Regions from separate parts of the Homo sapiens genome. Here region 2 is linked to region 1. Evidence: fine-mapped expression QTL. A gene starts in region 1. The other region holds a variant in brackets. All regions are shown on one strand. Distances are between the middles of the regions. Region 1 holds the start of TP53RK (TP53 regulating kinase). Region 2 has its middle 42 kb from the start of SLC2A10.

The links. PIP is the estimated chance that this variant, and not a neighbour inherited with it, causes the effect. A credible set is the group of variants that fine-mapping cannot tell apart.
Region 2: its variant is the best candidate, but not a certain one, in a credible set for the expression of TP53RK in whole blood (INTERVAL, PIP 0.59).

Annotation. Positions count from the first base shown.
Region 1 is chr20:46,686,995-46,692,373 of GRCh38, forward strand. TP53RK (TP53 regulating kinase) reads right to left here and starts at 2,450. Exons shown (of 2, transcript NM_033550.4): 1 at 2,138-2,450; 2 at 1-237. The coding sequence starts at 2,420. It overlaps TP53RK-DT (TP53RK divergent transcript), which reads left to right and starts at 2,305. Exons shown (of 1, transcript NR_186399.1): 1 at 2,305-3,295. RefSeq lists a silencer at 2,029-2,078 and an enhancer at 2,309-2,898.
Region 2 is chr20:46,748,554-46,753,932 of GRCh38, forward strand. No RefSeq gene overlaps it. Among named protein-coding and RNA genes, the nearest start is that of SLC2A10, 42 kb to the left of the region's middle. The variant A/G (reference allele first, on the strand shown) is at 3,104.

The sequences.
Region 1 (5,379 bases):
GGGGGGGTTTCAGGAGCATGTTGGAGGTGGTGAGATCACCATGAATGAGGTCTTCATCGTGCATTCGAGCCAAAACCTGCCCAATTGTCTTGGCTAAGTTGGAGAGACCCTGGGGAGTTTTTTCAGTCTCCATAGTGGACTGAATATAATCTCGAACAGTCACTGAGCCTTCAATTTCTTCCATATATAAGCAGTTGGAAGCATAGTCCACAAAAAAGACAACTGGGGCAGATATTCCTGAAATCAAGACATAAGTGGTTATTGGGTTGGATTTTTTTTAACGGGTAAACTTAATTTTCAAAGATTAAGCCAGTTTTTCCATCTATATCTACTTATTTCAGGACTATTGAGGAATGCTACAGGAAATGGTACAACTGAACTCATCTGGAATATTCCCCTGCTCATGCCCACTGCAGGACTATGCCTGGGAACACCCCACAGCTAAACTGAGGAGGCCATAGCTTCCTCCTCCCTTCCAAACCACCCTTTCTCACTGGACTTCATTTGTCACACTCACTCTCTAAAAAACAAACAAAACAAAGGCCGGGTGTGGTGGCTCATGCCTGTAATCCCAGCACTTTGGGAGGCGGAGGCAGGCGGATCACTTGAGGTCAGAAGTTCGAGACCCCCATCTCTACTAAAAATACAAAAATTAGCCAGGTGTGGTGGCTCACGCCTGTAGTCCCAGCTACTCGGGAGGCTGAGGCAGGAGAATAGCTTGAACTCAGGGAGCGTAAGTTGCAGTGAGCTGAGATTGTGCCACTGCACCACTCCAGCCTGGGTGACAAAGTGAGACACTGTCTCAAAAAACAAAAACAAAGAGCAAGGCACAGCCCAGTCAGAGCAGTTTCTACTGATGAGGACACAAACAGGAGGCCAAGCAGTGTGCTAGCTTCGAGGTTCATCTTCGTAGTCAGAGAGGACAGGGTTCAAATCCCAGCTGCTTTTCTTATTAGTTGTCTAATCTAATCTTAAAATTACATTAACTTCTCTAAGCCTCAGTTTCTGCTACTATACAAGGAACAATAGCTCCAATAAACTCAATGAATCTTTACTGAAAGTCAACCAGGCTCAGTATACTTTTCTAGAAACTGAGAGATGTTATCAATGGGGATACAGCAATAAACAAGCCAGCTATAATACAATCTCTGCTTAACGAAACAGATCATGAGGCTGAAAACAGAAATATGAATACACAAATAACTTCATGAAATCTTAAGTCTCTGAAAGGGCAGCAATGTGTCCGCTTGTTGGCTACTGAATATCCCCCACCCAGATCTCCCAGCACTTAACAATGTCCTGGTACCCACTGGTACCTAAAAAATACTGATAAAAGAAAGGCAAGAAGCGTAAAAGTAAAAAGCCAGGGCTTCTGAGTCAGAGGCATAAGGAGCTGAGGGCCTGGACCGGCCACTTAGTAACCGTGTAACCTTGGGCAAGTTACTTCTCTCTGAGTGTCACTTTCTCATCTGAGGACAAAGTTTATGGTGCTGGCGCACAATGATGTTTAATGAAAAAATAGGCAATTTAATGAAATCCAACATTTATTGGGCACTATGTGCCAGGCACACATTTGAACATAATACGTGACACACATACCTCCTCTAATGGTCACAACATCCCTATGACATGGATACTGCTACTATGTCTCCCATTTTACAGGTGAGAAAACCGAGGCTGAGAGGCTAAATAACTTGTTGAAAGGCTACACAAGCAGCAGAGTTAGTATTTCAACCCAGGGAGCCTGGCTCCAGTGGGGCAAGTACTTGTCATTACATGTTTCTTAAAACTAATAAATGGAAAGATAATGATCGAAAATTGAAACGAGTCAAATGGGGAAACCAAGGCTCAGGGAAGTTAAACATGTTCAACATTGAGCAATAATGACAGATCCCAGATTTGAACCAGGCAGAACGGCCTCAGGACAAAAGCTTGACGCTGCATGGCCACGTGGTTTCTTAAGACTTAACGAATGAAAAAAGGGATGAAAGAATAACATTTCCGAAAGGCCGGACACCGCAGAAGGCACAGAAGGAGAAACTGAGGGAAATCCAGCTTCGGAGCGCAGGGGAGTCCCTCACCCGCCCAGGCCCCAGAGCCTCGGGGCCGCCCACGCCGGGATCCCGGCCCACCTTACCAGCGCGGCGACAGCGGAGGAGCGCCCGGGCCTCCTGCACCGTCCGCCGTCTGCCAAGCCGCGCCTCCAGCGCCGGGTGCCGGTAGCCCTTGGGGAAGCGGTGCTTGATCACCGCCGCGCGGCCCTGGAAGCGGCCACGGAACACGCGCGCCTCGGCACCCTGCTTCACCAGCTCCAGGCCGCTCAAGAAGCGGCTGCTCCGCTCCCGGGCTGCGGCCAGAGCCTCAGCCTCCGGGGCGGGCTCCTCGCCATCGGCCGGCGTAGTAGCTCTGGCCGCCGCCATGACTGCTCGGCGCAACAGCTCCAACCGATCAGCTGTCTCTGAAAACTGTCGCGATGCTTCGGCTCGCTTCGGAAATCCTGGGACTTCTTCGGCAATCCTGGGACTTCTTCGGCTACCCGAATGCGTCCACCCCGGACACTTCCGGCCTGTAAGTGGTTACGCCTCCCAACTTTTCGGCTCTCTGAAGCCTGAGGTTCCCTGCAGGAAGGGCTCTTGTGGCCCCGCCTTCCGCCTCTTCGGCTATCTCCGTACACGTTCGGCAACGCTCAGTAAGTGGCTCTTCCCGACTCCTTGGCTCTCCGGAAATCTTCGGTGACTCTCGCAGCCGGCTTTGGGGGCCCACCTCTCAGTTGGTCGTCTCTTTCCGGAAAACTTCGGCGCCTCTCGAGAAAAACGTCGGACGCGCTTTGCTCTCTTCAGAAGTCTCTTCCGGGACAGCTGTACCCTCTAGTAGTCTCTTTTTGGAACTCCTCTTCCCCTGACTCCTACATTCCCCCCAAAATGTGCTCATACAAGTCAGAGTCGGAAGGGTCAGACAATGAACCATGTTTCCGACATCCTCTTAAGTGCTAGGATAACTACCATTTAGTGCATTCAGAAGAAATAAGGTTAAATGATGAAAATCCTTACAGAAAAGAAAATTGAGACTCAGAGCTGGCAGAGGGGGTGGTAAGATGGGGTGGGGAGTGGGGGCTGGGGAATCCGGGAAAGTCTTCCGGAGACAGAACCTAAACTGAATTGGGAATAATTAAACTTTTTCAGTTTCTACCTGTTTCATTACAAAGCTTATAATAACACAGGCTGTAGCAAATTCTTACAATACGGAACTTTGCACACGCACACATAAATAAATAAACTACCTATCCCCCTTGTGACACTGCTGGCCGTTAGTTTCTTTCCAGAATTTTCTTTCATTCAGTGTGCACACTCACACATCGTTGTGGCGTTTTTTCCAACATAAATGACATCATACTGTGGGTTCTTTGGCAACTTGCTTTTCATTTTCCTAAACAATTTATCTCAGACTATATTCCATATCAATACATACAGAGCTACCACGTCCTTCTACCTGGTCAGGCAGTTTCTTGTTGCTAAACAGTTGTTTCCAGTTTGTTGTTTCTCAGGAAAACACTTTACTTACTATTGCCAGTTTATTATAAAAGATAGTATAAAAGATAAAAATGAACAGCCAGATGAAGACGTACATAAGGAAAAGTAAAAATTGTACGTGTTTATCGTAAGTAACATGTTTTGAAATATGTATACATTGTGGAATGGCTAAATCCAGCTAGTTAACGTTACCTAACATACTGATCATTTCGGGGGTGAGGACACTTAAAATCTATTATCTTAGCATTTTTCAAGAATACAACCCATTGTTATTATCTATAGTCACCATGTCGTGCAATAGATTTCATGAATGTTTCCTCCTATCTAACTGAAATTTTGTATCCTTTGACCAACTTCTCAAAATCCTCCCTATCTCCCTCCCCCTACCCCACCGCCTGGTAACCACCATTCTACTCTGCTTGCATGAGTTCAACTTTTCTTACCTTCCTCATATAAGTGAGATCATGGGATATTTGTCTTTCTGTGCCTAGCTTATTTCATTTAACACAATATCCTCCTGTTCCATCCATGTTGCTGTAAATGACAGCATTCCATTCTTTTTAAAGGCTGAATAGTATCCCATTGTGTATATAAATGTACCATATTTTTATCCATTCATTTAGTGATGGACACTCAGATTGAGAATTGTGAATGATGCTGCAATTAACATGGGACTGCAGACATCTCTTCAATATACTGATTTTGTTTCCTTTGGATATGTACCCAGTAGTAGGGTTGCTGGATCATAAGGTAGTTCTATTTTTATTTTTTTTGAAGAACCTCCATACTGTTGTCCATAATGTCTGTACTAATTTACATTCCTATCAACAGGGTGCAACGGTTCCCTTTTCTCCACATCCTTGCCAACACTTATTATCTTTCTTATGTTTTAAAATAGCGATTCTAACAGGTCAGAGGTGATATCTCATTGTGGGTTTAATTTGCATTTCGCTGATGATTAGTGATGTTGAGCATTTTTTTTTAATATACCCGTTGTCCATTTTTATGTCTTCTTTTGAGAAAGATTTCTTTGGATCTTTTGCCTACTTTTAATTCAGGTTTTGTCCTTTCTTACTATTGGATTGTATTCCTTATATATTTGGATATTAACCCCTCATCAGATGTATGGTTTGCAAAAATTTTCTCCCATTCTGTAGTTTGTCTTTTCACTCTTTTTTTTTCTTTTTTCTTGACTGTGCAGAAACGTTTTAGTTTGATGCAATTCCATTTGTCTATTTTCACTTTTGCTGCCTGTGTTTTGAGAGTCCTACACAAAAAATCGTTGCTCAGGCCAATGCCATGACATTTTGTCCCTGTTTTCTTATAAGAGTTTTATAGTTTTGGCTCTTACATTTAAGTCTAATCCATTTTGAGTTGATTTTTGCATATGATGTAAGATAAGAGTCTAAATTCTTTCACATGAATATCCAGTTGTCCCAACACCATTTATAGAAAAGACTGTCCTTTCTCCATTACGCGTTCTTGGCATGTTTGATGAAACTCAATTGACTATAGTGCGTGGATTTATTTCTGGGCTCTCTATTCTGTTCCATTGGTCTATGTGCCTGTTTTTATGCCAGTGACATGCTGTTTTGATTACAATAACTTTGTAGTATATTTTGAAGTCAGGCAATATGATGCCTCCAGCTTTGTTCTTTTTGCTCAAGATTGCTTTGACTATATGGAGTCTATTATGATTCTATATAAATTTTAGAATTTTTTATTTCTACAAAAATGTCATTGGAATATTGATAAGAATTACATGGAATCTGTAGGACATTTTAACAATGTTACTTCTCCAGTTTTGTTTCATTTTTTTTTGTTTTGTTGTCTCTTATAAACAGTGCTG
Region 2 (5,379 bases), 62 kb after region 1:
AAAGAAAAAAAGGAAAAGAAAACAGCCTGAAAAATAGAAAGCAAGATTTCTGACAGTGGCAATCTCAAGGCAGTTGGAAGAACAGGAAAGACTAGCTCCCCACTTAGAACATTCTATACTGTCTATGTGTTTCTGTGAATTCTCATTCATGTCTTGCTTCTATAATGAAAGGGCTATGACAGTGAAAGAAAAAAATAAAAATAATTTTTAGTACTTTAGAAAATACTGAAAACTATAAAGATTAAAAATAAAAACTGCCCATGTCCTACCAGTTACTAACAACATTTTGGTATATATTCATTCACCTACTCTTTTGTCTATGACAATAAATCAAGCTAGTTAGAAACGAGGACAGGTATTGGGATATATAGACATTCTCACATCATTGAGACCACACAGTATACGACACGCTGTGGCATTTACTTTTTGAGATTATCAAGCATTTCACATGAGGCTGAGTTCACAAATATATTGTCTTTGCCAAAGTTACAAACAGTATCCACGATTTCCCCCAGGGTCTGGCTTTTTGGGTCTGGCTTTTTCTTTACTTCTGAACATGTAGAAAAATGAATTATGTGCCTACCAAGACAACATTGCAGTTTTCCTGGCAAAGGCTAATTCTGCCGATGGAAACAGTGTTTTCATTTTCTTTCTTTCTTTCTCCCCACCATTCTATGCTTTTCTGGTTTCTCTGTGTGCGTATTTTCCCCCTGGATTTGACATTATAAAGTTGCTAAGTTCTTCCAGATTTAAGGTGCTATGCCATCTTAAATCTCTGGATTTGACAGGCTGGGCCAGTGGTTACTGAGATATGATCCAAGAAGCTTTCTCTGGGGCCATCTGTCAATCAGATGTCAGCTCATAAGGAGGAAGAACTTGGCTGCTGGCCTGCACTTGGATGCCAGAGTTGGTTGCCTTTTGCTTGAATTGTGTCTGCACAGTGCTAGGCGCCCAGTAAATTCTCATTGTATCCCTGATGGGTGAAACCTCATCAGGTAGCTCTTGAATGGAGATATAAAATGTTTGCCTCATGTCAACTCTTCTTGATCTTTTTGACCCATGTCTTCCGATCTGAACAGCATTTAAAACTTTCTCCCATTGTAGCACCTATGGCCATACTAACTTGTCTGATCCTATTGTGGGTGAATTTTTGAAGACAATTATAAACCAGCCCACATGTCAGTACCTGAGATTTCTAGCCTTCCAGTGTCATCCATTCTAAAACCCGATTTGAAGATGCAATGTAGGAAACCAAGAACTACCACCACCACACCCTGTCATCGCTGTACCTTTGAGGTCATTTACTCAGCTTTCATGTCTGGTATGTTGAAAGAGTGGAAGTTGGGAGTTAGAGGGGTGCAAGTAGCAACTTGATTTTCCCTCTCACTGCCCATTCAAACACAACTGGTGGGATAGTTCTTTACTTTCCCCGAATGATCCATTGGGCCGATCCTTTAGCCCTTCTCCTCACCCTTAGATCATGACCAATAACAATATGGTGATGATTATAAAAATAAAATGTCTCCAAGTCACTTCTGAGTGTAGCAACAGTCTAAATGAAGTCATTAGAATGTCGAGTCATGTCAAAACTCCAAACTTCATTCATATTAAACCTCTTTCCTCCTCCACTCTCATTTCTTCTCCTCCCCAGCCCCCTTGGGCTCTGAAGAGGTGAGGAGCAGGGATGTTTTACTTGGCTGGTGTTGTGATGATGTGATCTTGTGCTTTCTGGACTTAGAGGGCCAATTCCTTCTTTCCTTAGCTTGTGTGTCCCAGGGGAGGGATGGCGGTTCTTGGCAATTCTCCCACTGGCAACCTCCAAATTTGCTTCCTGGGAGGCAGGCAATGTGTCTCCTCTGGCAGGCCACTCTTGAGTGTGCCTGCAGGTCCTGGGCATCCTGTGGTCCAGCAGCCCCATTTGGGCGCCTCACATTTTCAGGCAGTCCTGCACTGGGAATCCCAAATAACCCCAGGCCAGCTGCCTCTGGAGGTTCAGAACCTGCTGGAAGAAACTTACACCTTTGGCCTTCTCTAAAGTCATCATTCCTGATGCAGTAATCCATTTTCCTGCAGAGGCTGAGCGGCCATGGTCCCTAACTTCTACCCATTTCCAGGCATGGGTTTGGCACTAGTCTGTCCAGAAGACACAGGGCAAGCTCTTTCGGTGGTTTCCCCACATCTCTCTGACTCGGCGTTCGGTGAAGAGTTGGAACGGCTTTTTCTCCAGCATAACGTTGGAGGTGCTAATGGCAAGGAAATGCCACAGGACGCCAAGTATCAATAGTTTCTCCAAAGACGTGTCTCCAAACCTGTATTAGTCCCTTCGTTCTCGCACTGCTAAAAAAAATACCTGAGACTGGGTAATTTACAAAGAAAAGAGGTTTAACTGGCCCACAGTTCTGCAGGCTATACAGGAAGCATGGCTGAGGAGGCCTCAGGAAACTTACACTCACGGAGCAAGGCAAAGGGAAAGAAGGAATGTGTTCACATGGCTGGGGCAGGAGGAAGAGAGAGAGGTGGGAGGCACTACACACTTCTTTTTTTTTTTTTTTTTTTTTTTTTTGAGATGGAGTCTTGCTCTGTCGCCAGGCTGGAGTGCAGTGGCACGATCTCGGCTCACTGCAACCTCCGCCTCCCAGGTTCAAGCTATTCTCCTGCCTCAGCCTCCCAAGCAGCTGAGACTACAGGCACACGCCACCACGCCCAGCTAATTTTTATATTTTTAGTAGAGACGGGGTTTCACCATGTTGGCCAGGATGGTCTCTATCTCCTGATCTCATGATCTGCCCGCCTTGGCCTCCCAAAGTGCTGGGATTACAGGCGTGAGCCACCGCACCCGGCCAGCACTACACACTTCTAAGCAATCAGATCTGATGAGAACTCACTCACTATCACGAGAACAGCAAGGGGAAATTCGCCCCCATGATCCAATCACCTCCCACCAGTCCCTCCTCCAACACTGGGGATTACCATTTGACATGAGATTTGGGTGGGGACACAAATCCAAACCATATCAAAACCAGTCCTCTCTTTCAGCTTCTCCAACCTCCTTGAGCACTGGGGTAAGGATCACAAACCAATTTTTTTACCATTGCTTTTTGCA[A/G]TTCCTGCAGAGGTGGAGGGAAGGGTGCTTGCTACCCACTGGGTTACTCCTGGCGTTTGGAGCTTCAGCCAAACGGAAGACAGAAAGAGTCCCATCCACACGCCACGGCTCTCATTTATCCCTTCAACAGGCGCCTGGATCCTCCGGTTCCACTTCTCAGGGTGTTCTGCCTTGCAGCTCTGGCAGCTGTTGTCTCCAGCCTGCATCAACTCAAATATGGAAAACATCCACGTTTTCTTTTCATTTTCTTGCCGCTTTCTAACAGTATCACTCATACATTTCAGAGAGTCCCATAGACTTTCCGTAAGGGGTGGAGTCACAGAAGCGGGCATCTGTTGCTTGGACGCCATCCACTTCCATTCGCCTCTAAGCTGATAGCTCTTACGGATCTGCTCCTCAGGGACCCCACCCATCTCCTAGTTAACCAATAAGAGCACCCCACCCCCACCATCCCAGCAACAATGATTGGTTCAGGAATGAGGGCGTGGCCAAAGCTAAGCCAACCAAAGCCAGTGATACTGGATTCTGGGACTAATTTTTAAATTTCTTAAGAAAAACTCTTCGTACTGGATTGCTGAGAGAATGGGATGTAAGGTCTGAACTCATGTCTGCCTTCATGCTACCAGCAAAGAGAACCTTGAAACCAAGTGCCCTGTATCCAGTAGGTGCTTAATAGTAGTTTATCGAGTGAAGGAAATAATGGGGAAAACATCTGCCAATGCAAGTAGTGCCAGTGCAATGATTCAAAGTGGTACTAAGTGCCCCCTGGAGAGGGCTGCATACACATGCAATTCCAAGTCTAAGAATGTATCTCACAGATACATTTGCACATGGACCCATATCAGTGTTACGGTGAAAGGTTGGACAGGTTATGCACTGCCCAACATTAGTGTGCACCATTCACATCAGGCGGGACAGAGTGGGAGAAGATAACTTTGCTGTAAACCTTTGTGCCCTGTGTGATTTTTTTTTTACCATGATCATATATAGTTTCTTCAGAAGAAAAATTTTTATATCAAAGCCGAAACTGTGCATTTACATTTCTTTATACATTGCTTGGCACATCAGTGCTCAATATGTATCAGCTGTATCAGCAGCCATCATTATTGTTATTTTTTAAGCTGTTTTGAAAACCTTACGGTGTTATTACACCATGGAGACACACGAGGGCGCGCCAGGCATCTATTTAAAAAGTGTTTTCATAGCAGTTCGTGGAGGCTGTAATTTTGAGTGTGTACAGGAGATGGGGGAAAAAGTCTTGGGGGTCCCGTGTGGGTGACAAGGGCAAGTCTTAGTTCCAACTTGGTCCAGTCTGCCAGCCTTGTCAATGAAATACCAGGACTCCCTTCCTGAGTGCTCCATAGTGGAATCAGGGTGAGCGTCCACTCTTTGCAAGTCCTTAGAGGAGAGAGCTGGCTGAGCCGGAGGACTGGCCCGGGGAGCCCCTGCTGCACCCGGACCTGTGTTCTCATCTGTGCAGCAGAAACAATCAAACCCACCTGCAGGGCTATCGTGAGATTAAGCAGGGTCTCTCAGAGATCAAAAGAAGCCCGAACTACTTTCTAGAGTGAAGAACTGGAAAGAAGAGAGAGAGAGAAGGAAAAGAAAGCCTCAAACAATCACCAAGATTGAAGTCACTCTCACAAGGTTAAATTTTACAACTCACCCCTCTGCCTCATATACACGGCAACCTAACAGTGCCAGGCAGAGATGGTGGGATTTATTTTAAAACAGTAACTTATATGGTCTGATAGAAGGACCCAAGCTTGGCCGGGCGCGGTGGCTCACGCCTGTATTCCCAGCACTTTGGGAGGCTGAGGCGGGTGGATCACGAGGTCAGGAGTTTGAGACCAGCCTGGCCAACATGGTGAAACCCCGTCTCTACTAAAAATACACAAATTAGCCGGGCGTGGCGGCGCGCGCCTGTAATCCCAGCTACTCAGGAGGCTGAGGCAGGAGAATTGCTTGAACCCTGGAGGCGGAAGCTGCAGTGAGCGGAGATAGCACCACTGCACTCCAGCCTGGGTGACAGAGCGAGACTCCGTGTCAAAAAAAAAAAAAAAAAGAAAAGAAAAAGAAGGACCCAAGCTTAATAATTTCTTTCTGACCCCTTCTGCTATCAGTTCTGGCGGTGCTTCTCCGTGATTTGGGTATAAGCTTATTCGATAAGGTTATACATATACTCATAAGATAATACACAAAAGCATATGCAGAGGGCTGCGGCAGACAGATTGCTGGTCTACTGGAAAGCCAGCTCCCCTTCTTGGCTAAGAGAG